2 separate regions of the Homo sapiens genome follow, and region 1 is reported to be linked to region 2. The links are microRNA targets in miRTarBase. Many come from high-throughput screens and were not tested one by one. Region 2 holds a microRNA gene; the other region holds the end of a gene's coding sequence.

What was found. The annotated mature microRNA hsa-miR-23a-3p reads AUCACAUUGCCAGGGAUUUCC and lies in region 2 at 2,195-2,215, opposite strand. An mRNA with a match to its seed (bases 2 to 7 or 8) in the 3' UTR can be bound and repressed. Matches are read on the target gene's strand: a 7mer-m8 pairs with bases 2 to 8, a 7mer-A1 pairs with bases 2 to 7 and ends in A, and an 8mer does both.
Region 1: the mRNA of POU4F2 is a reported target of hsa-miR-23a-3p. Seed matches in the 3' UTR shown: 8mer at 3,952-3,959, 8mer at 3,881-3,888 and 7mer-m8 at 3,592-3,598.

What each region holds. Positions count from the first base shown.
Region 1 is chr4:146,640,226-146,644,868 of GRCh38, reverse strand. It overlaps POU4F2 (POU class 4 homeobox 2), which reads right to left. Exons shown (of 2, transcript NM_004575.3): 2 at 2,395-4,643. The coding sequence ends at 4,061. Among named protein-coding and RNA genes, the nearest start is that of POU4F2, 3.7 kb to the right of the region's middle.
Region 2 is chr19:13,834,401-13,840,749 of GRCh38, forward strand. It overlaps MIR23A (microRNA 23a), which reads right to left and starts at 2,259; the gene lies at 2,187-2,259. It overlaps MIR23AHG (miR-23a/27a/24-2 cluster host gene), which reads right to left. Exons shown (of 1, transcript NR_036515.2): 1 at 116-6,349. It overlaps MIR24-2 (microRNA 24-2), which reads right to left and starts at 1,959; the gene lies at 1,887-1,959. It overlaps MIR27A (microRNA 27a), which reads right to left and starts at 2,117; the gene lies at 2,040-2,117. RefSeq lists enhancers at 4,192-4,301, 4,332-4,551, 4,772-4,871 and a silencer at 5,292-5,521.

The sequences.
Region 1 (4,643 bases), not on the chromosome of region 2:
TTATCCATTTGAGTATTTTGAAAGTCAACACCAAATGGATATTTCTCAACAATTTATACATGGTTCAGCCTATTCTTACCTTTAATTTTTTCTTTAAGACCAACCCTCTTCTCTCCAAATCTCTTTGGTTTGGTATTATCTCTAGTATCTCTGCAACTCTCATTAGTAAAAACTTCAGAATATATTTCTTTTCAGCTTTTCCCATACAACACACATTTGAGCTTGCTCTAAGAATGAAAATACTTCCATCTTGCAGACAAGAAAGTTTTCTCTTACCCTAACACAGAAAAGATTAACAAAATGTGATGTACTTTTGAAAGTCCAGGAACACGAGAGACAAAGAACACCTGGTGAATTAGGAGAAAATATAGGCCTTTACTCTCAACTATGGAAGTATATGGATAGTTGTTGTTATGTCACTTTTCTCGCAAAAATCTTAGGCATGTATGCACATATGCAAGCTGTCATGTACTTCAAAAGTACTTTTAAAACTCCTTTTTATTTCTGTTCAATATGTTTCTCAATTTCTACTACTTTTACAGTGTTTTCATCTTCATTTAAAGATGCTATATTTGTAGAAATAAGACACTAGCACATCTGTTTTACTTCCCACCAACTAACTCCCTTTCACTAAAAATCCACATATGAGAAGGGAACGGTGTTATTTATTGAAGATCATTTTTATCCTAGATAAGGAAGCTGAATCTGTTTTACATTCAAGCCATTTTATTCATTTTCTCCACTCTGGAGAAAGCAAGCAAGCCGAAGGTTGTCCAGCTAGCTAAAAACTTTTTGGTCAAAGGTGAGTTGGAGTAGGGCTGAGTTCTACGGTTACTATCCATGGTACTGAAATTAGTACTCAGCATAGAACCGAGCTGACTTTAACTCAGCATATGCTGGCTGTTTGAAAAGACTTTCAGGAAAACCGAATCTAAGAATACGAAGGGAGACAGAAGAAGAAACTTTCAGCCTTCAAGACAGAAATAGAACTAAACCATCAATATTACTATACTTGAACTCACAATTTTTTCTTTTAAATTCCTACAAGTTTTAATGTTTTCTTAGGCACCTATGCAACATCTCATTATTTGTAATGGACACTTAGATTTTGTTTCCTCAGGTGTCTTTCCTTTTTCAGTAATAAAAAGAGGTCCCTCCACCCATTCTCCATCTAACTTTCACAACTCTTTTTGTTACCTCCAGAAATTATGATATTTCCAACAACATTTAATCCCAACTTGAGCCACTGTAACGACTTTCATTGACTCATAGGATATTTCCTAATCTTGTCTCCAAAATAAGAAACATCTCAAGATAATTCTGTATCAGAAGAGTCACAGCTCAGGTTAATAGAATTACTCCTGGAGAATGACCTAGATCTTCCTCTCATTTGAGCTATAGATTAGCGTGATATTCTCATATTAATTAATAGTGTGAGATATTAATAACATAAATATCTAAACCAGATACTTACTGAGGGAAAAAATACCTTTGAAAACCTGGTATTATGTTGTCCAACTGTTGTAGGGAGTCTGAATATTATTAAAATAGTGGAGAGATGTCTTTAAGCTAGGATCAGAAGAAGAAATGACTGCATCAAACATGACGAATTTTCCTGTGTCAGTGCCAAACCAGTGTCAGACAGACTTCCCACCAACTCTGATGTCAGGGTGAATCACAGAAGAGGGCAAAAATTTGCTACTCCTAACTACACAGAATTTCTTCCTCAGCCCTACTCTGCTATGTGAGTTTCCTTAAAGGTCATGGGAAATGAGGAGAGAGAGAGAGAGAGAGAGAGAGAGAGAGAGAGAGAGAGAGAGAGAGAGGCCTTATTTCCTAAGCCAGCAACTCAGGTGCTTCCTGCTCTGTCTGGGTTCCTTGCTTTCCAGTGGTGGTGACCAAACTGAAAGCTATGGTGGGCTTGCTTCTGGGCCTCAACCAGGGTTCTGTACTCCTCCAACCAGGCCTTGGCTCTTGCCACACCCAGTCTCCTAGAGCTGCTGAAAAGTGAGCTGAGTTTCTTTCTTACTTTTACTCCTGATAGTTGGGAGGGAATGCATGAAATTGTTTCCATCCAATATCTCTGCTTATAAAGATTCTTTTTTGCAGGATTATTGCAAGTCTGAAGGAAGAACTCCAAGGGAGATATTTGGAGCCAAATATCATAATTTCTTCTGAGCAGAAAAGTGAAGTATCCTGTGAGATGAGTTCTCACTATTAAAAGGCGGTTATAAACCTTGTTCTTTAATACTTTACCATAGAAACAGCCCTTACTAAGTCCAAGCTATACTTTGATAACAACCACTCCCTAATAAATCATCAAAATGTGCTTCCTCCTTTAAAAAAGTCTCCCACCAAAACACTTCCCACATAAATGATTAAAACAACATCACATTTTAAAAGCCATTTAATTTTAATAGCATATTTTAATGAAAAAGCAGCATACGTTGCCAATAAAACATTAAAATTATCTCTTCAATGAAAGACAATCGAACAACACCAAAAATAAATTAATACATTACCATAGTAAATAAACCATCTATTAATAAAAACAAGAAACCAGGCCATATACAGAACTCAAGACTTTGGAGAGCCTCAAAGAGAACAGCAATACAGCAAAATTTGTAAGAATATATCTATGTGTGCATCATTTTTAATGAAATATTTACAGTAGATAAGGTACCAGTTATCATGTACCTAATTTTTTGTTCCAAAAGAATTTTTCCAAACAATGTGAATTTACAAGCAGTGCACTGTCTTTCTTATAGTTCAAATTAGTTTTTCTACAAACAAACCTCCAAAAGGAAAAACTGAAGTATTCCTATAAATATTAACATGTAGCCAACAAAGCAATTGAAAACTGGAAGACTGAAATACCTTGGTGAAATCTAAAATCTGAAGGGCAAACACCAAGTGGCAAATGCACCTAAAACTAGAAAATGGTGCATCGGTCATGCTTCCAACTGCTTCTTCCCTTCTGTTAGAGGTGTGTGTGTGTGTGTGTGTGTGTGTAAGGGTAAGTGAGAGCGCTCATGTGTCATGGGGACAATGTGGGAATCCCCATTAAATATGTAACGAAGTAAACAATACTTCAGACAGTGAATCAGGTCTACACGATTAAGACATCCATTACTGAGTGTCGACTCACAAATCAGAACACTACCAGTAAAAACAAAGAAAAAAACAATCTTCATTCAAGTGAGAATATACAAATGGGTCAAAAGGAACACAGTATAGGAGGAAAGCTGTAAAAATTCGGTAAACTCATCAAACAAAATTTTTTGAACGTTACTAGCTATACATTTCCCCCACTTTTTTTAGACGGAAGAAGTTTAATTAATTAGAATGTGCACAAAATTAAGTTGCTAGAGAGATAAATTAATAATTTACAGAGGGTTGTTCTGCAATAATCTAATAATAGCTTTCAAGATCAGTGAACACAGCAGGCGCAACTCTTTTCTTAAGCATTAACACTTCAGAGAAGGAAAAGGGGGTAAGAACCACAATAAAAATATATATATAATATACAGTGTAAATGCAGAAAATCTGCCATCTTTTTTTAAAATTCAAAATACTTTAGAGATGTCTCTATCACATTAAGCATCAACTCTAGTTTAAAGTTTTAGTCCTGAATCAATTTCTATTTCTGAAAAATAGTTGCAAAGTGTACTTTTAAACTTGAACACGGGTGATGTCTGTAAGAATAAAAACAAATCTTACTTGATCATTCTTGTGGACTTTTTAAACACTGTCTCGTCTGCCTTCCTGCAAACAGCCATCTCCACACTTCCTCTGAAGAAGCCGAGGTGGGGTTCAAAGGGACAACTTTGCTACAACAGACAAATACCATCTTTTGTTATTCTTTCCTTTGAGAAACTGTTTCACATTCTCACCGGCTTGGGCTCAGTTGTTCGCTCGTTCGCTCCCTCTTCAGTCCTCGATTTGTCGAGATTCACATTTACTGGAATTGTTTCTAGTCGCCAAAAGTGAAAAGAGGCAGAAGAGAGGAGAGAAAAGAGCGGACGAGGAAAGGGGCGTCTCTGGAGAGGCCAAGAGTCTTCTAAATGCCGGCGGAATATTTCATTCTTTTCTGTTTCTGCCTCTGGTTGCAGAACCAGACGCGCACCACGTTTTTCTTCAGGTCCAGCTTCTCCGCGATGGCGGCGATCTTTTCAGAGGAGGGCCGAGGCTGAATGGCAAAGTAGGCTTCGAGCGAGCGCTTCTCTGGCGCAGCGATGGACGTGCGCTTGCGCTTCTTCTCCGCGCCATTGAAGAGTTCAGGCTTGGTGAGCTTCTCGCGGTGGGACTTCTCGGCCTCCTCGAGCCATGCCTGCAGGATGGGTTTGAGCGCGATCATATTATTGTGGGACAGTGTGAGGGACTCGAACCTGCAGATGGTGCTCTGGCTAAGCGAGCCCACGCCGGGGATCTTGAGGTTGGCCAGCGCGGAGCCCACATCTGCCTGGGTCACCCCCAGCTTGATGCGTCGCTGCTTGAAGCGCTCGGCGAATGCCTCCAGGTCCCGCGGGTCGGCGTCCACGTCGCTCATGCAGCCCATGTGCGACGGCAGCCCGTGCGCGTGGGCCATGCTGAGCGCTGCTTGGTGCATGGGGTTCATGGTGGCCATGTGCGGCGCGTGAGCC
Region 2 (6,349 bases):
GGCAGGGATGGGCAGGCAGGAGCCCGGAGTGCCAGGATGGTAAATTCAGGCCAATCAAAAGCTGAAACTCCAGCGATGGGAGGCAGGAGTGAATCACAGACCAGACCTTCAGGAATGAAGTCAGGGCAACTTTTATTTACTTGAACAACAGACATGACACACAGCACGATCTCTCCTCTCCATCCCATCCCAAGCTTCTGTCCACGACTACCCAGGGTGGGGAAAAAGGCAATGGCCCAGCCCCGATGACCTGGGGGACTTCAGTGTGCCTCCTCAGTCCCACCCAGAAAAAAGCCTCCTCCCATCTGATTTCAAGATAGTGGAGAAAAGCCAGGCACGGTGGCTCACACCTGAGCCACCTGTAATTCCGGCGCATTGGGAGACTAAGGTGGGAGGATGGCTTGTGGCCAGGAGTTCGAGAACAGCCTGGGCAACATAGTGAGACCTGCCCCCCCATCTCTACAAAAATTAAAATTAAAAAAATTAGCCAGGTGTGGTGGCGCATACCTGTAGTCCCAGCTCTACTGGGGAGGCTAAGGCAGGAGGATCACTTGTGCCCAGGAATTCAAGGTTGCAATGAGCCATGATCACACCAGCCTGGCCAAGATGGTGAAACCCCGTCTCTACTAAAAATACAAAGATTAGCCGGGCATGGTGGTGGGTGCCTGTAAGCCCAGCTACTCAGGAGGCTGAGGCAGGAGAATCGCTTGAACCCAGGAGGCAGAGGTTGCAGTGAGCCAAGATCACACCACTGCACTTCAGCCTGGGCAACAGAGTGAGACTCCGTCTCAAAAACAAACAATAAAAGGCCAGGCACGGTGGCTCACAGCTGTAATCCCAGCACTTTGGGAGGCTAAGACGAGCAGATTGCTTGAGGTCAGGAGTTCAAGACCAGTCTGGGTAACATGGCGAAACCCCGTCTCTACAAAACATAAAAAAAAATTGGCCGGGCGCAGTGGCTCATGCCTGTAATCCCAACACTTTGGGTGGCTGAGGCGGGCAGATCACCTGAGGTCAAGAGTTCGAGACCAGCCTGGCCAACATGGCGAAACTCGGTCTCTACTAAAAATACAAAAATTAGCCAGGTGCGGTGGTGTGCACCTGTAATCCCAGCTACTTGGGAGGCTGAGGCAGGAGAATCGTGTGAACTGGGGAGGTGGAGGTTGCAGTGAGCCGAGATCGAGCCATTGCACTCCAGCCCGGGTGACAGTGCGAGACTCCATCTCAAAAAAAAAAAAACAAAAAAAAAAAAACAGAGTCCTAACTCTTCCCTGCCCTGAGAACCCCCTCAAGGCAGGGAGGATCAGCTATTCCCAGCGCCTCAGGACTAAGCACACCTGCTTGTGTCCCTTCTGGGTCCACAAGGAACTTGTTCCATGCCCCACATGTGGGGCGGGTGTCACTGCTCCTCCCGGCAAGTTAGAAAGCTGCAGGGCCCAGCAAGAAGGGGCCAGGTCAGGTCAACCCAGCCTGATACCGGAAGCCAGGAGTTGGCATTTAACGGTCTGGAGGCCCAAGGCAGCTTCCTCTTGGGTAACTGGCTGCTAGGAAGGTGCGGGCCGGGCCAGTGCCCCTGCCAGGCTTGGGAGAGGAGGGGCCAAGCCTCCAGGCCCGGAAAGGACACAGCTGGCTTCCCTTTTAATGGAAGGGCCACCCACTCACCCACCTATCTATGCTGGCACCACAGCCCAGCCTGAGCTGTGGCCATGCAGGGGTCCCCAGTTGCAGAGTTGGGGATCAGGGCCTGCAGCACACATTTGGGCCCAGCCAACCCCACCCACCACATCCCTCCTCCAGACACAGGTCTGATTCTGAGTCCTCATCTCTGCTCCAAGCATCAGCCCACCCAGGGAAGGCAGGGGCTGCAGGCTCCAAGGGGGCTTGACCCCTGTTCCTGCTGAACTGAGCCAGTGTACACAAACCAACTGTGTTTCAGCTCAGTAGGCACGGGAGGCAGAGCCCAGGGAGGCCAGGCAGCAGGATGGCAGGCAGACAGGCGGCAGCAGGGGACAGGCGGCAAGGCCAGAGGAGGTGAGGGCCTGGGGGGCGGAACTTAGCCACTGTGAACACGACTTGGTGTGGACCCTGCTCACAAGCAGCTAAGCCCTGCTCCTCAGGCCAGGCACAGGCTTCGGGGCCTCTCTGCCACCCCGTCCCCGGGCAGCATCCTCGGTGGCAGAGCTCAGGGTCGGTTGGAAATCCCTGGCAATGTGATTTGTGACAGGAAGCAAATCCCATCCCCAGGAACCCCAGCCGGCCGTGGCACAGGGGTGAGGGGGGCACCGGGCGGGGCCAGAGGCTGGCACCTGGAGGGGAGAAAGAGAGAGAGAGCAAAGGAGGTAATGAGATTTGGGGACACCTCCCCTCCAGGTCCCCAGATGCTTCCTTTGATCACAGGGAAGCTCTTTTCTCATATGCAGGAGCCACCACACGGGGAGCTGGAGCCTAGCTGTGCCCTCCGTTCCAGCCCCAGGACTGGAGAGGCAGAGATACCTAGAGGGCCCATGCGGGACAAGGAGGCTACAGCAACTTGCATGGCCAAGCTCCCCCCTCATTGAGCCCTGGGCAGGCCAAATGGGGCCATGGGGAGAGGAAGCCAAGGGGGGCCAGGCAGGCGGGTGAGGAAGTGATCTCACCCCAGCTGGCGCCACTTCCTAGAAGCCTGGAGGGCAGGAGGAAACCACCAGGGCCTCCCCCCCCGTGGCCCGGTCTCCTCAGTGGCCAGGGCTTAGCCCACACCCACCAGGGCGGATGCCGGCAGCAAGGCACCCCCCTCTCTTTCTAGACACGCACCCCCCGCCCCCCAGAGCACAGGATCCAAGCTCCAAGATACAGGCCTCTCCACCCAAACAGCCCAAGGTTCAAATCCTTGCTCCACAGTTTCCCAAAGACTCTCCAAAGCTTCAGTTTCCCCATCTGTAAAATGGAGCCAAGAGCCTCTTTTGCATAGCCCAGTGAGATGTCACCGAGTATGTATGTCACTCAGTAAGTGCCCAGCACCAGGGCAAGATACAGGATTTTCAGGACCCGGTGCAAAATGAACACGTGGTCCTCTAGTTCGAAAACTAAGAATTTCAGGCCAAGCATGGCGGCTCACGCCTGTAATCCCAGCACTTTGGGAGGCCGAGGCAGGAGAGTCACCTGAGGCCAGGAGTTCAAGACCAGCCTGCGCAATACGACAATACCCCATCTCTACAAAAAAAAAAAATATTTTTTCTTTTTTGAGACAGGGTCTCACTCTGTCGCCACGGCTAGAGTGCAGGGGTGCAATCACAGCTCACTGCAGCCTCAGCCTCCCAGGTTCAAGTGATCCTCCCACCTTAGCCTCCGGGGTAGCTGGGACTACAGCTATGCACCACCATGCCCGGCTAATTTTTTCTTTTTCTTTTCTTTTTTTTTTTTTTTGAGACAGAGTCTCGCCCTGTCGCCCAGGCTGGAGTGCAATGGCGTGATCTCGGTTCACTGCAACCTCCACCTCCAGAGTTCAAGCAATTCTCCTGCTTCAGCCTCCCGAGTAGCTGGGATTACAGGTGCCCGCCACCACGCCCAGTTAAGTTTTGTATTTTTAGTAGAGACGGGGTTTCACCATGTTGGCCAGGCTGGTCTCGACCTCCTGACCTCAGGTGATCCGCCCACCTCGGCTTTCCAAAGTGCTGGGATTACAGGCGTGAGCCACCACACCTGGCCCTAATTTTTGTAGAGATGGGGTTTTGCCATGTTGCCCAGACTGGTCTCCAACTCCTGGGCTCAAGCAATCCGCCTGCCTCAGCCTCCCAAAGTGCTGGGCTTACAGGCCTGAGCCACAGTGTCTGGCCCACAAAAAATTCACTAAAAAATCAGCCAGGAGTGGTGGTACACATCTGTAGCCCCAGCTACTCAGGCGGCTGAGGTGGGAGGACTGCTTGAGCCCAGGAGTTTGAGGCTGCCGTGATCTATGACCATGCCACTGAACTCCAGCCTAAGTGACAGAGCAAGACCCTATCTCTAAAATAAACAAAAACAAGTTTAAAAAAAGAAAATAATTTCAGGCTGAGCGCGGTGGCTCATCCCTATAATCCCGGCACTTCGGGAGGCCAAGACAGGAAGATCGCTTGGGGCCAGGAGTTCGAGACCAGCCTGGGCAATACAAGACAAAAAAATTAATAATAATAAAAAAAAATTCATGACCCCAGCAGTGCAACATTAAACTAACCTCCAGGTCCCTCCAAGCAGGGCTGCCGTGAGACTGCCCGTTTCACAAATGCATGAAGCCAGCCCTAAGTCTTTAGTGAGTGGAGCTTCTTTTGATAAGAGCCCAACACCTGGCTAGCAGACTCCAGTTTTGGAGCCCAAGTCTGCCCAGATTTGAAAGCCCCAGCTCTGCAGCTTCTGAGCTGGGTGACTCTGGGCAAGTCACTCAACCTCTCTGGGCCTCAGCTTCCCCATCTGCAAAACAGGGATAATAAGTATGGACTTCATAAGTCATGGTGAGGACCCCATGAGTGATAAACATGATCACGACAGAGCTGCTGCTGTCTTTGCCAAGGCAAAGGATAACGGAAACGTGGGTGTCTCACACCAGGACCCCAGTGTCCGCCCGATGTGGTGGCGCTCACCACTTCGAGACAGGCGGCGAGTGATGTCCTGTTTTGTCCCCTCCCTATACACACATACACACATACCAGCCACTCTTTCCCATCAGGCCCCAGCCCAGCCCTGTCCCCTTAGGGTCTGGAGGCGCCAACTGGGAGCAGGCGAGGCCCCGCAGGGCGGCCAGCCTCCCTGGGCCGCCTCCGGAAGTGAGACAGCACATTCGTGTCCCAGGGACGAGAACGGGAAGGGCGGCCATTTGGCCAGGCTCGTTTCCTGTGGGGTTTCCCCTGCACAGAGCCCAGGGCCGGGGCCAAGGCCACTCCCCATCCCCGCAGGCACAAAAGGTCTGGGTCTTGAGTGGAAGGGGTGCTGCCATGCAGGTGCCCAGGAGACAGGGTCCCCTTTACCAATCATGGTGCACTTCTCAGGCTCTTGGGAGATGGTGTCCAGGGGGAAACCAAGCTCCTAGCAGCTGGAGGCATGAGGGAGAGGGCGGGCCCCTGGGCTGGGGAGCAAAGCAGGCCCCAGGCTGCATCAGGACACCCCGGCCAGCCAATGCATGTGGGTATGCCTGAATACCCCCTCCAGACAGCGTGTGCGTGGACCAGACACACAAGGGTATGTATGTGTACCGCTACCCCCCCAACCCCATGCTCCAAGAATGAATCAGGGGCAGCTTCCGCCGGGGGCGCCACCACCACCTCCGCCCCCAAGCCTGGTCCCCAAATACTTTCCACCCTCACAGAGCAGCTGGGATCGGAAAATACCAAGGGCTGCAGGCCCCGCCCTGCCCGCCGCGCCACCCGCCCTCCCAGCCTGTCACTAACGCTTTGCCTAATGGGCCCAGACTCTCAGCAGAAGCTCCGTGGGCTGGGCCTCGAGCCAGCCGCCAACCTGGGCTGCCCGGCCAAGCGCCGCCTGACCAGGAGCCCCCCGCCCCTCTGCCCCAATCCCAGTGCAGCGACAATAACAACCGCCCCGATGGGCAGCCCTCAGAGGGTGGCACTGGGTAGGGAAAGTCAGGGCACTGACAAGTGGGTGGGCCCCGCTGCCCACCCAGGGCTGGGGTGGGGGGAGGCTCAGGAAGGGGTGAGTAAGTGAGGGCTGAATCACTTGTTATAAATAGGGGAACCATGAAAGTGACATCCCAGCCCCCATTGCGTCCCGCCAGTCCACACTCTAACCCCCACTTAGACTTTAATCTTTCCCAGACCAATCACAGAATTCCCAGGGGCCCCCTCACCTTCATGTTGGGAACCCTTAGTAGAGTGGTACACCCCGTCATCAGGTCCACCCCTGCCTTCTCCCCACATAGGTACATTTTGCAGTGAGGGCCTGGCTGTGGGGGTCCCCTGGCCTTGAATGCAGTCACTGGTGTCTGCGCCCTATCCACCTCCCTCAACGCACCGATTCCCAGGCCCAAGGCTCAGGGCCTCTAGGCTCTCCAAGGCATTCTCAGGGTGTGGGCCACCACAGTCCTGGAGGGTGACCCCAGAACCTAGGCCAGGCGGGAGGCCAGGGGGCTTGGCATCTTCGAAGTCAGTTCCCCAGGCACCGAGGCCCCACATCCTAGACCACCCAGCCCTGCTCTGCCCAGGGCCACAGCTCAGTGACCACACCCAGGGTGGCGCCAGCTCCAGCACCCTGGGGCAAGGCGTCGCTGGAGCGTGACTCAGCCGTGCCCAGCATGGCGGCGCCCTTCTCTGCCCAGGGATTCTCACCCACACCCACTGCCCTCCGCTCAACATCCTTCCCAGGCGACCGGCCCTAAAGGACA